2 separate regions of the Homo sapiens genome follow, and region 1 is linked to region 2. The links come from fine-mapping of genetic effects on gene expression. A gene starts in region 2. The other region holds a variant in brackets. All regions are shown on one strand. Distances are between the middles of the regions.

Region 1 (9,624 bases), 770 kb before region 2:
CCACCAACAGTGTAAAAGTGTTCCTATTTCTCCACATCCTCTCCAGCACCTGTTGTTTCCTGACTTTTTAATGATCGCCATTCTAACTGGTGTGAGATGGTATCTCATTGTGGTTTTGATTTGCATTTCTCTGATGGCCAGTGATGGTGAGCATTTTTTCATGTGTTTTTTGGCTGCATAAATGTCTTCTTTTGAGAAGTGTCTGTTCATGTCCTTCACCCACTTCTCGATGGGGTTGTCTGTTTTTTTCTTGTAAATTTGTTTGAGTTCATTGTAGATTCTGGATATTAGCCCTTTGTCAGATGAGTAGGTTGCGAAAATTTTCTCCCATTTTGGAGGTTGCCTGTTCACTCTGATGGTAGTTTCTTTTGCTGTGCAGAAGCTCTTTAGTTTAATTAGATCCCATTTGTCAATTTTGGCTTTTGTTGCCATTGCTTTTGGTGTTTTAGACATGAAGTCCTTGCCCGTGCCTATGTCCTGAATGGTAATGCCTAGGTTTTCTTCTAGGGTTTTTATGGTTTTAGGTCTAACGTTTAAGTCTTACACCAGTAACAGACAAACAGAGAGCCAAATCATGAGTGAACTCCCATTCACAATTGCTTCAAAGAGAATAAAATACCTAGGAATCCAACTTACAAGGGACATGAAGGGCCTCTTCAAGGAGAACTACAAACCACTGCTCAATGAAATAAAAGAGGATACAAACAAATGGAAGAACAATTCCATGCTCATGGGTAGGAAGAATCAATATCGTGAAAATGGCCATACTGCCCAAGGTAATTTATAGATTCAATGCCATCCCCATCAAGCCACCAATGACTTTCTTCACAGAATTGGAAAAAACTACTTTAAAGTTCATATGGAACCAAAAAAGAGCCCGCATTGCCAAGTCAGTCCTAAGCCAAAAGAGCAAAGCTGGAGGCATCATGCTACCTGACTTCAAACTATACTACGAGGCTACAGTAACCAAAACAGCATGGTACTGGTACCAAAGCAGAGATATAAATCAATGGAACAGAACAGAGACCTCAGAAATAACGCCGCATATCTACAACTATCTGATCTTTGACAAACCTGAGAAAAACAAGCAATGGGGAAAGGATTCCCTATTCAATAAATGGTGCTGGGAAAACTGGCTAGCCATATGTAGAAAGCTGAAACTGGATCCCTTCCTTACACCTTATACAAAAATTAATTCAAGATGGATTAAAGACTTAAATGTCAAGCTGCTTTTTAAAAGAGAATAGAGAGGTGCTTGGGAAATAGGCAGATCTGAGTTTGAATCTTCTAATACTTAGCTATGTTATCTTCAGCAAGTTAATTAACCTCTCTGTGCCTCATTTTACCTGTTTTGTAAATGAGGATAAGGCCTACTTTGAGTTGCTGAGATCGAAATAATGTCTTAAACTATTTACTACATGGAAAGTACTTGATAACAGAGACTACTAAATTTGGCTGGCTTTAAAAAATCTCTAATAGTATTATCACTAGTAAGGAAGGTGTTATTATCCCGCCTACTGTATTCAGATACAATGATGATCAGACTTAGCAGGAGGCAAGACAAGATACTTTTTTTTTTTTTTTGAGACAGGGTCTTGCTCTGTAGGCCAGGCTGGAGTACGGTGGCACGATCATGGCCCACTGCAGCCTTGAACTCCCAGGCTCAAGTGATTCTCCTGCCTCAGTTTCCCAAGTAGCTGGGACCACAGGCATGCACCATTATGCCTGGTTAATTAAATTTTTTTTTTTTTTTTTAAGAAATGGAGTCTCCCATGTTGCCTAGGCTGGTCTCCTGAAGTGCTGGGATTATAGACGTGAGCCACCACACCCAGTCAATGCAAGATTCTTAAAATAGATGGTAGGAAATCTCATTTAAAATGGCCCTTTGGGGTTTTGTATGTAGCAGAGCAGTTCTTTCATTGCTATCTATTGATAGTCAACCCTCAACACAAGGGTTCATTTTTTAAAAAAATAATAAAATGTTCCTAAACTAATTTTGGGGTGTGTGTGGAGAGACTACCCTGAGAAATTCACAGTAAATACATTTGTATTTGAAAATGAGCTACCTAATGGCAGGGAATGAATGACACACACGTTTGTTTGCTTCCCATGCCTTTTGCTCAGCAAATATTTGATCCATTAAATAAATAGATATAGATTATTGATTATGTGCCAGGCATCCTTCTAGACAAAGGGGTTGGGGCAAAAAATGGGAGGTGCTTCCTTAATTGAACGGAGGATTGAACGAACGAACTGATGAACACTGTACCTTTTCTGATTTTTCTGAACTAAGTCATCAGTACTTTTTTGCTTCTCTTGTTTCACCTAAGATTTTCTTTACTATGTCACTAGGCAGTGGGATTTCCTTCAAAAGGCTCAACTGAAATATGGTCTACTATGGCTGAAGCTGGGTATAGATGTGTTTAACTTTTGTGTGGATTTTAAAAGTTTCAAAATAAAAACGTTTTTAAAAATCACCAATAATAATAGAAGGTAATTATCATGACATGTATCAATGGTTTTATAGTATCCCTGTTTATAACAGAGTTAACCAAAAACTATACAGATGCTCAAAGAGGTGAATGACTAAGAAAATTCACATAATCAAGAGGATAGAATACTAAACAGCAACGAATTCACATCTACCGACTTTGTCAATTCATGGAAATATCTAAGGAAATAACATGAAATGAAAAAACAAGCAGAATATAATCCACAATTACAACAAAGAAAATATGTGATATGCATATATTTACATAGGCATAGCACATATATTTAAGTTTTTACAAAAACTAAACATGTATTTAGTTACTTAGGAATATTACTTTCCCTTCTGGGTAAGACTGCCCACGTTAATACATGTAATATAAATAAATAAATAAATAACACGTGTATAATAAATTCTGTTTATTTTCTTTTATTTTGAGATAGAGTTTCACTCTTGTCACCCAGGCTGGAGTGCAGTGGCATGATCTTGGCCCACTGCAACCTCTGCCTCCTGGGTTCACGCTATTCTCCGGTCTCAGCCTCTCTAGTAGCGGGAACCACAGGTGCACACCACCATGTCTGGTTAATTTTTTGTATTTTTAGTAGAGACAACGTTTCACCATGTTGGCCAGGCTGGTCTCAAATTCCTGACCTCAGGTGATCCTCCCGCCTCGGCCTCCCAAGGTGCTGGGATTACAGGCATGAGTCACTGGGCCTGGTCATAAATTCTGTTTTCTAAGCAAACTTATCTTACATCAGAGGGCAGAATGGTTAGGGAAAATATCTAGTGAAAAAGACCACCAACAAAGGAGCACCATCTCTCAATTGTCACACTAATGTGCAGTGACACTTTGGCAACTGACTCCCAGTTACTGGCATACAGTTTCATCTACCAGTTGGAGCCAAATGGCAGATTTGGGATTTTTCTTAATCCGAGTTATTATTCAGAACAACATATTCAACACAAATATTTAACCACTAGTGTCAGATTTTATTTTTACATGATAACTCCTCAAGCCTTTAACCGCAAGAGTGCATACAAGGTAAAATTAAAAACAAAATTAAGCCTGCTGACTTTCACTGTGATTGTGGTTTGATATCATGCAGGATAGATCACAACTGCTGATTCATATTAGGAAAGAGAGCCCCCAACTGTCACAAGCACATTGTGTTTGAAAATACAAAACCTTACCAAATCACTTAGTACTTAAAATTAACAACATCCTCATCATCTTGTGGTTGAAATGATGACTGAACAATAACTCAAGCTAGTTGTGTTCTATATATTTTTAATTAATATAATTAGTATTCCTAGATCTTTTTAAATTGCTCTACTCTAGCCCTAGGGAAAAATGATTTCAGAAGGCTGAATACGTATGCTGATTCAAGATATGATTTCTCACACACCCAACCTCTATAATTTTGGATTATAGAGCAATATAGAGTAATTCTGGCACCATCTCTTTGGCAATGCTGTTTAAAAACAAAGTTACTATTACACACAGCCCAGGATATTGACTTCGCATTGCACATAAATACATTTATATAATACTTTTTCTTTAATATAGAAGCCATAGCCTTGATTTTTTTGAAAAATGATGAAGAATATGGTAATTATGAGACTCTCAATTGACTCAAAAGTTCAGAGCTAAAATCAAGGTAGAGTTTGAACACACCTTACAAAAAGTTGAGATCCAAATTGCATAAAATTTATGAAACTTTTGATTTAAGGACTAAGTTTTCTGGTAACCTCTTTGGGAACATCAGGATAATAAAAGATGATTAAGTAATAATGGTATCTCGGCCGGGCACGGTGGCTCATACCTGTAATCCTAGCACTTTGGGAGGCCGAAGCAGGAGGATCACAAGGTCAGGAGTTTGAGACCAGCCTGGCCAATATGGTGAAACCCCATCTCTACTAAAAATACAAAAAAATTAGCCAGCTGTGGTGGCGCATTCCTGTAATCCCAGCTACTCGGGAGACTGAGGCAGGAGAATTGCTTGAACTCAGGAAGCCGGAGGTTGCAGTGAGCCGAGATCACGCCACTGCACTCCAGCCTGGGCAACAGAGCGAGACTCTGACCAAAAAAAAAAAAAAAAAAAAAAGAAAGAAAGAAAGAAAGAAAGAAAGATGAAATAACGATATCTGATCAAATTATTTGCCTTGGCCGGATGGGTGCCAGTCCTGGCTATAAAATTCACCATCTGGGAGACCTTGAACAAATTATTTAATTTATCTGATTCAAACTTGCTGTCTATAAAAATGAAAATAACTTTATGTAGTTTCTAACTTAGAACAATAAATTATTAATGATAAATATGAAAATGCTGGGAAGAGTTTCAATCACTACTAATATATATTCATTATCTAGCATTGTCTTCTTCAAATGGATACATTTTAAAAACAGCCTTTAATCATAGAACCACTTTTTTGCATAACTTTAAGCCATAGGGCTAATTATACACGACACAAATCTAACCAACAGAACTGTACTACTTAGATTAAAAGAAACTTGCAGAAATGATAGTTTTGCATAACTTTAAATAAAAGGCTAACTACAGATGACACAGAAATCTTACCAACAAAACTGCATTATTTCAGTTTAAAAGAGACATGAAGAAATGACATTAACAGTCCAAGTCATATATAAAGAAGCCCACACAAAGGGGAACTGAAACGGATAAACGGACTTACTTGGGAGTTTATCTTGAAAAGGAACTAAAACATACATCCCAAATAACCAATGTCTGCAAGATCCAAAAAGACAGAAGAACTCCAATAATGGAAAGGACTCAGTGACACTGAATTACAATGGACAAGTCCAGTAAAATTCAGTTCTTCCTACTATTCCTCCCAACAAAAGCAGAAAACAACCAACACGCACGGTACCGGTTGACTTGTTCTGTGCCACTCAGAGTAGGTGCGTGGAAGAGCAGACAGGAAGCTGGGGCATATTTAATGAATACTGAAAGGGAGGACTGAGGGTTTGGCAAAGTGTTCACGAGACGGACCCTACCTTTCACAGATTTCCCAATACTGTGTAAGTGAGTGACAGAACTGTAGTTTTGGGCAACAGTCTTCAAAAACGCTTCCATCCCTTCCTGG[C/T]GGTGGTAGTTGAAATCCAGCGCAGCTACCAAAGGCAGCAACAGCCCTAGCCAGAGGCACGGGAAGTCCATGTTCTAGAGATGAATAAAAATAAGAAGAACCTGAGAACACATGAGGGCAGGCGGGGGCATCACCAGCTACGTCTCGGTACTCCGGTCTCAGGGTCTCCCGACACTGACGCTCCCTGCCTCCTAAGGAGGCAAAAGCTGGAAGCAACACCTTCGGGAGTGAGCCGTGCAACCAGAGACCGGGAGCACGGGCAGCCTCGGTGCCCTCGACCCAGCCGCCCGCGCCTCCCTCTCCTCCTCCTCCTGGCGCCTCCGCCGTCCGGCAGCTGCCACAGCTGCGCCCGGCCCCGCGCACCCCCAGCCTCACCAGGTCCCAGGCGCGCACCTCTACCCACCCGCGGCCGCCCGGCGGGGCCGGGTGTTATAGCCCGGTCAGAGGGCGGGCGCGCCCGGGCCCCGCCCCCGGACGTCCCTCCGGCCCACTCCGGAGCCGCGCGGGTGCCTCCCGGGCGGGGCCTCAGCCGCCTTCGCACCTAGGAGAGACGGCGCCCGCGCGGTGCGCCCTTTCGTGGCGCGGCTGCTGGTGCCCGCGGCCGGGCGGCTGAGCTGGGCGGAGGGCTGCGGGCATGGAGTCGCCGCTCGCGGACAGTCTTTGCTGGAGCCCCAGGTCAGAAGTGTGTCCTCGCCTCGGCCACGGCTGTAGCCTGGGCAGCCACAGGGCGCTCCACCGAGGGACACTCTCTGTCGCAGACTGCAGCCGCTTGGGAGACGTTTAGGGCTCGGCGGGTTTCCTGCGGTTGGCGGTGCCGGGGCCCACCTGGAGCCGGGACGCATGCGGAGTCCTGAGTGCCCTGAGCCCCGCGCGGGCTCCTGCGGGACGGGCGGCGTCGGCCCCGGCAGGGCGAGCCAAGCTCCCAGCAGTGCCAAGCTGCCCAGCGAGGCTAAGCAATCACGGGGCTTCGAGAAAGAACGCGCGCGTGTGTGGAAGTTTTAAATGCCACGAAGTGCAGAGTGCAGGACATTTTCCAACAAGTTTACATAGTGGGTGGGATTTGTGTAAATTAGAATTGAATTTAAAACTGGAAGTCACATCGAAGAAGGCAGGACCACTGTTGTAAATCCGATGCTTCCTCCACCTGCACCTGAGTCTTAGGCCAATTACAGGTCTCTCGTCCTAAAACGTCCTAAAATGCTCCTTTCTGGAAGGATGGCATGGTCTCTGCACGAGAGAGAACGAAGGCTTCACTCAAACCTGAGAGGTGGTTTGTGGCACGGGCCAACCCCCTCTACCTCTCTAAAAGATTCATTCTCATTCATTCTCTCTCTCTCCCCTCCCCCTCTCCCCTTCCCTCTCTCCCCCTTTCTCCCACTCTCTCCCGGATTGTAAGTAACCGTGTCAGGGTATTGGGGGCCCGTGTCAAGGTCCGCAGAATATAAAAAGTTTGAAAACCACTGATTTGAGATAACATTCCACTTTTACAGACTAAAAATACGGATGCAAGCCCACGACTAATTGAATAGAATTTTTCTCGTGGAGGCCCAAGAAAGTGTATTTTTAGAGAGGACCTTGAATGAATCTAATGTGCCTTCAAGAGCTGAGAACCGTTAGATTCCCTGCCCCTTCTTTCTTACAGATATAGATACTTTTCCTAGAATTGCGCACTCAGGACTCCCTGAGACTTCCAGTGATTCTGCCGCAGCATAGAAGAGTGGTTTAAGAACTGAGGCGCTCTGCCCTTGCGATAGTTTGCTGAGAATGATGGTTTCCAGCTTCATCCATGTCCGTACAAAGGACATGAACTCATCCTTTTTTATGGCTGCATAGTATTCCGTGGTGTATATGTGCCACAGTTGTGCACATGTGCCCTAGAACTTAAAGTATATATAAAGAAAAAAAAAGAACTGAGGCGCTCACGGGATGAGTGCCAATTCTTGCTCTGACACTCAGTGGCTGTGTCGACTCTGTGCCTTATTTTCTGGTGTGTAAAGTGGAAGTCTTAATTGTACCTACCTAAATAAGGTTGGCAGGCACATTGTAAGAACTGTGCGAAGCGTTTATTACATAAATAAACCAGCTTAATTCGTAACTCTTTAAAGGGAATTTTCCAAGAGTTGGAATTTTTTTTTTAATTTTTTATTTCTTTCTTTATTTTTTGAGATGGAGTCTCAATTCTGTTGCCCAGTCTGGAGTGCAATGGCATGATCTCGGCTCACTGCAACCTCCTCTCAGGTTCAAGCAATTCTCCTGCCTCAGCCTACCGAGTAGCTCGGATTACAGGCACCTGCCACCAGGCCCGGCTAATTTTTGTATTTTTAGTAGAGACGGGGTTTCACCATGTTGGCCAGGCTGGTCTGGAACTCCCGACCTCGGGCGATCTGCCTGCCTCGGCCTCCCAGATCGCTGGGATTACAGGCGTGAGCCACCGTGCCTGGCCATCTTTTTTTTTTTCTTAAAGAGAAGTTGTTTTATTGTTTGTTTGTTTGTTTGTTTGTTTGTTTGTTTTGAGATACAGTCTCACTCTGTTGCCCAGGCTTGAGTGCAGTGGTGCAATCTCAGCTCACTGCAGCCTCTGCCTTCCAGGTTCAAGCGATTCTTGTGTTTCAGCCTCTAACGTACCTGGGATTACAGGCACGCATCGCCACACCTACGTAACTTTTGTATTTTTACACCACACATGCCTAACTTCTGCATTTTTAATAGAGACCAGGTTTCACCATGTTGGCCAGGCTAGTCTTGAACTCCTGGCCTCAAGTGATCCTTCTGCCTCAGCCTCCCAAAGTGCTGGGATTACATGAGTGAGCCACCTTGCCTGGCCTAAGAGTTGGAAGTCTTAGTATGACATTGTAGAGTCTTTGAGTAGGTTTTTTTTTTTTTAATTGTGCAGTAGTCACTATGCTAAATGTTATTTCCACTGGAAGGGTTGAAGACGTTTCCCTTTCATTGTTGTTCATTGACTAAGAGGTCTGAGGAGGGGGACTGGAGCTTGAGAAGATTAAATTTAGGCAAAGTTACTCTAGGAATGGGAAAGGGAACTGGGTGGGAACAAAGTGAAGGCTTGCTGATGTACCTTAGAAATCCTATCTTTTTAAGAGAAGTACGTGGACACTATCTGATTTCCTGCAGGGTGCTGTGGCTGGAGACTGGAAGAAATGGTGGCTTCATCAATACTGGAATGGAGATTGCCAGGATTGTTGTTCTGGAAAAACAGAGATGAGCTATAGTTGAAATTGCTGCCATTGGGGTTCACACTAGGTAGGAAGGGAGGCAACTTCAGGAAGGAGTCAGAGAATGGAGGTAGGGGGTACAGAGGACTGAGTGCTGAAGGTTTAGGAGCTAGTAACTCAGAGTGCAGGCCAGGGACAGCACTGGCATCACCTGGGAGCTTGTTGGAAATGTAGAATCTGTCACTCCACTCCAAACCTACTGAATCAGAACACACATTTTAATAAGATTTCCAGATGATGTATATGTACATTCAAGTTTAAGGTGCACTGGTCAAGAGAGAAAAAAAAATTTAGTGTTAAGAGTATGAAAGATAACAGCAAAATAAAAGGTTAGCCTAATAGAGTAAAATACTGAAGTTTAGAGATTTTAGAGGTGATCTTCTTTCTTTCTTCTTTTTTTTTGAGATAGAGTCTTGCTCTGTTGCCCAGGCTGGAGTGCAGTGGCACAATTTTAGCTCACTGCAACCTCCACCTCCCGGGTTCAAGCAATTCTCCTTCCTCAGCCTCCTGAGTAGCTGGGATTACAGGTGCCCACCACCACGCCTGGCTAATTTTTGTATTTTTAGTAGAGACGGGGTTTCACCACGTTGGCCAGGATGGTCTCGAACTCCTGGCCTCAAATTATCTGCCTGCCTCAGCCTCCCAGAGTGCTGGGATTACAGGTGTGAGCCACCAGGCCTGGACCTAGAGGTGATCTTTCTAAGTATGGCACCATTAAAGGTAAAACCATAATAAAAAGGCTAATAATTTGAAAACATACAAATGTATGACTTCTGTACAGAAAACCTTATAAAGGTT
Region 2 (9,593 bases):
TTAAAAATTTAAGGATGACTTGAACTGATAATTTTTGTTATAAATGTAAGCCCTCTGCTTTAGAAGAAATATATGCATAAAATGTTGTGGGGTATAAGTATGATATTGGAACAAAAGTTGAGGCCCCAAGGAACATTTCTAGCTACATTGCAACTGTACTAAGGGCTATTCTGTTCTATTCTTAGCAGAAGTAGCAGCAATAAATTCACATTAGTAAAAATGAACTAATGAGATAATTATCACGAAACACCATTGTATCTTTTACCATTTCATATTCTGAAGGCTTAGGTGATACCTACCTAAATTGCCAAAATAATATCATATTATATGACATGTCTGAAAAATTATTAGAGGTTGTTAATAGGACTTTCCCTCTAAAAATATTTTGTCAAGATATATACCAATGCATACACTTGCTTGGAAGGGTTGTTTTGACATGTGGAAAAATAGCTGTACCTATTTTACTTTTAATAATTATCAGTCAACTACATTAATATCCCTCTTTTCCAAAGGAGATCCTGTTGCTGCAAGGAAGAATGTGAGAGCAATGAAACACAAATTTGTTTATCTGTATGCAGAAGAAAAATAACAAACTATGAACATAGAAAAAATGGAAATACAGCCTCAAAAACCTTTAGCTTTCCTGTTTTAAATTTTAGCTTCCTCCAGAGAAGAAATTTATGCATTCAATTTTAATAAAAAAAGCTTTAAAATCTCATAAGTCTTCCCTTTTATCATACTGATGAAATTTTATTAAGACTATAACTTTTCATCATAAAAATATTTCTTGGACTTGATATTGCTCAAATTTCCTGTCAATCTGACAGGCATATGTTGTAATGTTATAAAGAATAAGCACCTCCTTTTGTGAACATAATATACCCTCAACTCAGAAAACGGAAAGAAAATAAATTATTCTACAGGCCTTTGCTTTAGTTGAGGTACTGTTAAGTGTGGCAGGCATCATCCTGGATAAGATATTTTCATTCCAGGCCAAAAGAAGGAAAGCTTTTCCCTGACATACACCAATCATGAACATGTTGATTATATAGGTAGTTGCTACAAGCTGTCAAATCATCAACTATGAATGACAAGTTGACAGAAGCACAAATAATTATTGTCTGTGGACTTTGCCCATTCAAAAGTCTTTACACAGTAAAGATCTAAGGATAATCCTTCCATTTTGTGCCTATTGCAACAGTCTCGAGGCACAACTGGGGCTGGAATGAAGGCCACCTGAATCTTAACAGTGAGGGTCTATTTTACAACCTAACAATGGTTAGTGGTGGATTAAAATCTGTCCTGAGGGGAAGAAGACAAATGAGAGGCTCACGCAAAAAAGGAGTTCCATAATGCGAAGTCAGTGGCAATCAAAAGGTTCAGATTTTTGAGACTGTATCTTACACAATATCTGATGGCCATTTAAGGAGACATGTAAAGAAAAGTACCTGTATACCAAACTTATTGCTGTATAAAGAACAGCAAAAACAATAAATTCCCTGTACAGTAGTTTGTAGATGCTGCCTCTCCACTTGAGGAGTAACCTATGAAATCCAAAAAAAGTTGCATTTGCTACTTTACTGGAGTAAGTGACAGTCATCTTGGATAGTTTTTTCTAGAAGAGCAAGAAGACAAAACACAAGTAAAAAGCAATGTTTAAAATAGGGCATAAATCTGTATGTCTGTATATCAAGGAAATTCAAGCCAGCAACTAGTCAGCCATATCTCTGTTTTGTCTTTCTTAGTTTCTATAATTCGGAACTTTCAGATAACCATTATCTCAGTTTAGCAGAAAGCAGGAGGAAAGCAGTCTCTGGGAAGAGTAATATTAGACATCTTAAACTTGCCTTAACTGTTAAATATTATTTTTAGATTATATAGCCATTGGCCAATATATATTTGAATGAACAAATGAGACAAACAAGGCCCTCGTGAGAATTTAATTGATGGGGCACTTTTGGTGGGTTTGATTGCATGTAGATGTCTCTCTAGTGGAGGTCCAAATGCATCGTTAGCACTCATTGCATTTCAAAAGTCAGCCAAAAAGTTGGGTCATAGTGATAAATAAGAATGGTGCAGTTTCCCCATGACAAGTTGTACATAAATGCTTAGGGATGGTTCACATTCTCTTTGGAGTTGAACAAAATGAGGTCATTATTTACAACTCTTTCTACTTGAGTCCATTTCATGAATGTGGTTAGGATGAGCACTGGGCCCAAAAGCCTTGTTTTTGGTGAGTTCTTTGGAATTCCACCACTTTTCACCAAGACATTAAATATTCAGGTTTTGAAACAGACAGCGCAAAGCTAATCTTTGAAAATCTTGCTCAATTTCTGGCTAAGATAGAACATATGCAAATAAAATGAGATTTATTTAAAATCTTACTTTTCTCAAAAGGATCTATGAGGAGAGTCTTATAGAGCTACTTAGACTGAAATCATGAAGCTTTTAGATAGAATTGTACTAGACACAAAAAATAAATTCTGTAGCAGATTTCTTTTGTAAAGTAGCCTACACCACACATTTTATCATAAACAAGAAAATTTTCTATCTTTACTCATTGCTGGAAAAACAATTCAACTCTGATTTGCCTATTTTCCCTAAGGAAATGAAACTCTGGAGCTACGTTTACAGCATTTTCTAAAATCACAAACTTAGCTTTCAACATTACTGATTTTAATAAAGAAGGTAGGGCCTTTTGGCACAAGTAAGTGGCATTACAAAAGGATGGGACTCATGCCACAAAACCGGTTTTATTTTTCCATCTTTACCTTGTCTATTTGCCTAGTGCGAATACAGCCAAAATTGGGAGAGGAGCATAATAAATTAAACCCATTTCATAATTTGTTCTCATGGACTCCCGGTAGTTTTAAATAACAGTCCTTAATTAACTTTCCTTTCTTTCATTTAGTAGTTCACTCTTCTTTTCAAGCTCTGCCAGGAAAATGAAAATCACAGCAAGTAGAGGTCAGAATTAAAATGCATAGGTTTACTCTGGGCACTAACCTATTTATTTGGTTTGTAGTCTCCGACAGGAAAGAGAATCTTCAAATTTCGGGCTCCCCCGAAGAGGTGCCTTCAGGTCGGTGCTGCACGCCCGGTGTCACCCTTCGCTCGTGCACAGTCAGATTTTCTTTCTGTTCTCTGGCCACTGAGAGGACCCAGAGTGTGACAAGAACAGGGGTTAAATGTTTTTCCACTTGTAGAGGCCTGTTTATGCCAGTTTAGCCACTGATGACAGTTATAGCTGGGAACAAACAGAAGCAACAGCTGCTGATGCTGCTTTTTTCTAAGCTATAATTATAACTCCACCTGCCACCCCAAGTACCCCTTTGAATGAGAAGTTGGCAGTGACATGAAGGATGTTGGGCCGTTTGTCTGTTAGATTCATTTGACTCCACCCTGGGATCAAGGAAGAAAGGTTGATTTGGCCCTAAAGAGTTCAAAAAAGAGGCCCCACCAGCCAAAAAAAAAAAAAAAAAGTCTTTTTGTGCTTGAAATGAAGATTAAATTCTTAAAACTGGGCTGGAACGCGGTGGCCCACACCTGTAATCCTAGCACTTTGGGAGGCTGAGGCAGGCAGATCACCTGAGGTCAGGAGTTCGAGACCAGCCTGGCCAACATGGTGAAACGCTGTCTCTACTAAAAATACAAAAATTAGCTGGGTCTGGCGGTGGGCTCCTGCAATCCCACCTACTTGGGAGGTTAAGGCTGGAGAATCACTGGAACCCAGGAGGCGGAGGTTGCAGTGAGCTGAGATCACACCACTGCACTCCAGCCTGGGCGACAGAGCGAGACTCTGCCTCAAAAAACAGATGAAAAAATTCTTATGAAGCCATAAACTGGGGCAGACAAGAATATAAACAGGATTTTTGCCACTTGAGAGGTGTTGAAAATGTTCTTCAATTAAAAGCAACGATTATGTGTTAGTGTGTGTGTGGTGTGTGTTTGTGTGTTAGAAGAACACATAGAGAATCATGATATATTGATGGCTTAGTGTAGTGGGAAATAATAACACATGGATTCATCACATTTTTTTTCTTTTAAGATGGAGTCTCGCTCTGTCGCCCAGGCTGGAGTGCAGTGGCACGATCTTGGCTCACTGCAACCTCACCTCCCGGGTTCAAGCGATTTTCCTCCCTCAGCCTCCCAAGTAGCTGGGATTACAGGTGCACACCATCACACCGGCTAATTTTTTATATTTTTGGTAGAGATGAGGCTTCACCATGTTGGCCAGGCTGATCTCGAGCTCCTTACCTCAAGTGATCTGCCTGCCTCGGCCTTCCAAAATGCTGGGATTACAGGCGTGAGGCAACGCACCCGGCCAGATTCATCACATTTGTTATCCTTCCATGGTCAGCTAGGAAATTTTTTCTTTTTTTTTTTGAGATGGAGCTTTGCTCTTCTTGCCCAGGCTGGAGTGCAATGGTGCCGATCACGGTGCACTGCAACCTCCGCCTCCCGGGTTCAAGCGATTCTCCTGCCTCAGCCTCCTGAGTAGCTGGGATTACAGGCATGCGCCACCATGCCCAGCTAATTTTGTATTTTTAGTAGAGACAGGGTTTCTCCATGTTGGTCAGTCTGGTCTTGAACCCCCGACCTCAGGTGATATGCCTGCCTCGGCCTCTCAAAGTGCTGGGATTACAGGTGTGAGCCCACCACACCCGGCGCATAGTTTCTTTCTTTTCTTTTCCTTCCTTCCTTCCTTCCTTCCTTCCTTCCTTCCTTCCTTCCTTCCTTCCTTCCTTCCTTCGTTCCTTCCTTCGTTCCTTCCTTCCTTCCTTCCTTCCCTCCCTCCCTCCCTCCCTCTCTCTCTCTCTCTTCTTTCTTTCTTTCTTTTTTTGAGACACAGTCTCACTCTGTCGCTTAGGCTGGAGTGCAATGGCACAATCTTGGCTCACTGCAACCTCTGCCTCCTGGGTTCATGCAATTCTCCTGCCTTAGCCTCCCGAGTAGCTGGGACTACAGGCGTGTCCCACCACACCTGGCTAATTTTTGTATTTTTGGTAGAGAGGGAGTTTCACCATATTGGTCAGGCTGGTCTTGAACTCCTGACCTGGTGATTCGCCCTCCTCAGCCTCCCAAAGTGCTGGAATTATAGGCGTGAGCCATCGCGCCCAGCCCCATATTTTCTTTCTTAAAAGAGAGAATTCACCAGCGTTCTTTAAGTAATAAAATAAATAATTTCAGGGCCAATTCCTGGGACTTTTCCAACCTTCTAAAGTAACTTGTGCACCCTTGCACCTTAACTTAAAGAAAATGTATTTTTGTGGAGAAAGATATAGAAAAAAATGCTTATTCTAAAATTAAGATTACATATAATTAAATTTTTCTAAAACAGTAAGTTTTATATGCATTTCGCTGGATTCTTTATCAAATTCTAGGTACCTTAGATTAGAGCAAAGCCAGGGCTGTAGGTATCTTTTTAATTTCTTGCCCCCATCCCTGTTCATAATTCCAGTATGGAGCCCTGTGAATAATGAATATTTAGTATGTATTTGCTGTTTGATTATTCCTTACCTTCACTATTATAATTCTGTTGGTTATTTGAGGGAATTTGTGAACATTTAAAAAGCATATATACAATGTTGCACATCTTATGTTGTGTTGCCATGAAAAGTGGTCTGATAGATCTGATGTTATGTTTATAAAGGTTTGCAAGACGAATCTCAGCAAATCTAAACCCAAATGCTTATGAAATAGGAACATCGGAGGTATTTTGTAAAATTCTCACTCTTGCATCTCCTATTGGTTGTGTGGTGGCCCTGACAGCTGGCATATTCCCAGCAGCCATGACTGCATAGCTAGGGGATCTGCCTCTGTGGGGCACTGAACGCACTGTTGGTTGGTTTCATTTCTAAACAGGGATAATTATGTTCCTCTCTCCCATTGGGTTGTTTTGAGGAATGACTAATTAATGGTTGGAGACAGCATTCTAAATGCAAATTAGTCAATAATGATCAGATTGAATGAACAAACTCCCATTGTTGAGCTCTGAATCTGGTGGTGATTTCTAACAGGTACTGAAAGAGGCCTTGTCGAAATAGCCCTGCTTAGAGGAGACAAGCCACTAAAGCTTATTTTAAAATATCCAACAAACACCGGATTGCAAAGTTGAAGGCTCATATCACTTTTTAAATCGAACTTTAAAGTTTCTTTAGAAATTTTTTTCCAGATTCTAAAAGTAAAATATGATTATTAAAAAATAAAAAGGAAAACAACATATAAAGAAGACAGTGGCACTCTGTCCTGCCACACTAGAGGGGTGGTATCATTTGGCATAAAGTTAATCTTGCTAGACTTTTGTGGAAAATATTTTAACCCTATAATTAATAGCAAACGATATGATAGACCCTTAGGCAATTTCAGGGCTCTATGAAATAACTATACCAGCCATATTTTCCCTTGACAGTAAACATCAAGTTATGTGATTTTGACCACTCTGATTTTCAACAGTCCAGAGTAGCACATTTGTCTTTGATTCCAGTAAACCTCCAATGACAGGGCAATTCATAGAAAAGAACAAGGAATCATTTCCACTTGGAATCCTGATATTCACCTATAGATGTCAAAATAAATCTCTTTGTTCCTTAAGGAAACAGGAAATAGTAACAACAACAAGTTTACGTAGCCAATACCACCTTCTACTTGAGAAGCAGCTATTTAGAAAGCCCCACATTCATTTTAAACTGATTTGACATGTCTCCACTGACATGAGAAGTCTCTTGTCAAATTTCTTCTGAGTGATTAGTTGAACATAAATTGTGTGTAGATAACACATGTATTCAAATATTAACCAAAGACCAGACGTTGTATTTTGGAGGATTTGATTCTGAACCTAAGACTTTGGGACATTACTAAGTGGGCAATCAATCAATGTTTTTGATGGGGAAAGGGTTCGAAAAAATCCGAGCTGCAGAAATGTGAGTCTCTGGGAAGAGTGTGTGATGAATTGGAGTGGGTAGGGACTATAGAAGGGGAATCAATTTGAAGGTTATTTTGGTTGTTCTGGGATAAACTGGGATGGTGGGTGGGTGGGTGGGTGGAATGCAGAGGAAGGATGGTGGGAGAGAGCCCAGGGGATAGCTACCACTGCAGGGAGGGGAAGAAGAGCAGGGGTAGGCGAGAGGAGGAGGAGAAGGAGGAGGAGGAAAAGGAGGAGGCAAGAGGAGGAGGAGGAGGAAAGAGAAGTATCATATGACACTTCCTTTGTCCTTTGAGTCTGTTTGCTCATGAAGAACAAAGATTATGGAACATGATTCTCAAATTTGTTCAGGTATGCTGTTCTTGATGACATGCCATGAACTTTTGATGTGTTTTATTTTATCCTGCAAATAAAAACATTCTACCAGCAAAAATGGATGCAAACTCAAGTTTCAAGTGGGAGCCCATGTGCCCATAAAAAAATAAAGTTGCTGAATTAAGTATGATTAGTCTGGCCCAGGCACAGTGGCTCACGCCTGTAATCCCAGCACTTGGGGAGGCTGAGGCAGGCAGATCACAAGGTCAGGTGATCGATACCAGCCTGGTCAATGTGGTGAAACCCCGTCTCTACTAAAAATACAAAAAAATTAGCCAGGCATGGTGGCACATGCCTGTAGTCCCAGCTACTGAGGAGGCTGAGGCAGGAGAATCGCTTGAATCCAGGAGGCGGAGGGTGCAGTGAGCTGAGATCGTGCCACTGCACTCCAGCCTGGGTGACACATCAAGACTCCGTCAAAAAAAAAAAAAAAAAAAAAAAAAAAAAAAAAGAATGATTAGCCTGTGGTTAGTGGTCAGTTTTCCTGTTAATACTTCTTTCTGGAACTTATGTTGCTATGTGCTGGATTTCTCTAGAAAAAAGATAGCAAACAGTGCTAAAAGTTCAAGAAAAATTCAGAGTAAAACGTAGAGAACAGTCCTCATTTTTTTTTTCCACAGCAGAATACACTGGTTTGGTTAGTTTCAGAACCAATTATAGTGATCATGTTTTCCTACAGGTAAATTTTTACTTGCCCAGTTGGATGGTGATCTTCTTGAGAACTCATGTCCTACTCTTTCTTGTTTTTTTTCTTTTTTTCCTATTTACTGCTTGCAACAATGGATCCAACAGCTGCATAACAAACACTGTTTGGGGTAAATCATGTGGCACTCCAGGTGTGCAGAGGTTTCTGTGTATGTCATTGGACATAGAACTGTGCCAAAAATCAAACCAAAGAGGATGGAAAACCTCTTCAATTAATTTATTATCTTTGATTTCAGGGGAGATATAGTGAACTCCTCAGACTAGAAAGACTATTGCGTTTTATTACAGCTGAAGCTCTAAGCTCATAAGAGACTGGATATTTGAGGAGTCATCATTACTTTCCTAGCATAGAGTAATTGCTAACTCAACAAAACAGAAATGCACTAGTTCAAATTTTGAAGGTTATCTTTTTCTAATGGAAGGTATGGAAACTTTGTTCTATTTTAGAGATGAAAGCTTAGAGTCTAGAGTATTATGATTATGGTGCTGAATGTGTATCCTGTACTCTATAATTGATGACTTTTTAAAAATGAATGGTATTATTCATCTCAAATACATTCCAGATTGCTAAAGAAAAAAAATTTCACATAGAATCAATTAAAAATCAGCTTAATTTTACAAGAAAAGGCACATGAATTCAAGAATATTGTTTATTCCAAACAGCTGTGAAATTCTGTTACTTTACCACTGTGATTGTAGAAGGTAGTGGAAATTATGTTACTGTATGGGTAAAGGCAACATATAGGTAAATAGAAAAATGCTATGCATAAATATGTGGGCAATTCTAAAATACCTTTTCTCGTGTAGTAAAATGCACGTGGAAATGAAAAACCCATGTTGGTTCTGGTTTTCTTTTTTTCCTTTTTTTTTTTGAGACAGAGTCTCCCTCTGTTGCCCGGCCTGGAGTGCAGTGGTGCAATCTCGGCTCACTGCAAGCTCCGCCTCCCAGGTTCACGCCATTCTCTTGCCTCAGCCTCCCAAGCAGCTGGGACCACAGGCGCCCGCCACCACGCCCGGCTAATTTTTTGTATGTTTAGTAGAGACGGGGTTTCACTGTGTTAGCCAGGATGGTCTCGATCTCCTGACCTCGTGATCCGCCTGCCTCGGCCTCCCAGAGTGCTGGGATTACAGGCGTGAGCCACCACGCCCGGCTGGTTCTGGTTTTCTAATATGGTATATTGAGCATTCTTCAGACATCTTTTCAGTCCTTTAACATATAACAGCTCCTTAATAGTGGTTACTGCTGGGGAGAGTAGTAGGTTTGGAGTAAGGGGGGAAGAAAAAAACTTCAGTTTTTGCTCCATATAATTTTATATTTTAAAAAGTAACATCTATATTTTAATATGTAATCATATTAAATAAATGAAATAAAAATCAGACTTGATGCCACTTCCAAATTCATACCTCCAGCTCAGATCTTTCACCCAACTCCAGACTTACCTTAATATTTCCATAAACATCTCAAACCCAACATGCCCAAAATGGAACTCCTGGCCTTTTCCCACAAATGTGCTCCATCTGTAACCTTTCCCATCTCTGTTGAACATTCCTTCCTTCCAAAAGGTCTAGAACCTTGAAGTCATCTTCA

Evidence for each region. PIP is the estimated chance that this variant, and not a neighbour inherited with it, causes the effect.
Region 1: its variant is fine-mapped to the expression of BEST3 in pancreatic islets (PISA, PIP 0.95).

The regions. Positions count from the first base shown.
Region 1 is chr12:68,927,174-68,936,797 of GRCh38, forward strand. It overlaps CPM (carboxypeptidase M), which reads right to left and starts at 5,998. Exons shown (of 9, transcript NM_198320.5): 1 at 5,969-5,998; 2 at 5,505-5,667. The coding sequence starts at 5,664. RefSeq lists silencers at 5,878-6,237, 6,268-6,377. The variant C/T (reference allele first, on the strand shown) is at 5,594.
Region 2 is chr12:69,696,199-69,705,791 of GRCh38, forward strand. It overlaps BEST3 (bestrophin 3), which reads right to left and starts at 3,105. Exons shown (of 10, transcript NM_032735.3): 1 at 3,007-3,105; 2 at 1,449-1,615. The coding sequence starts at 1,600.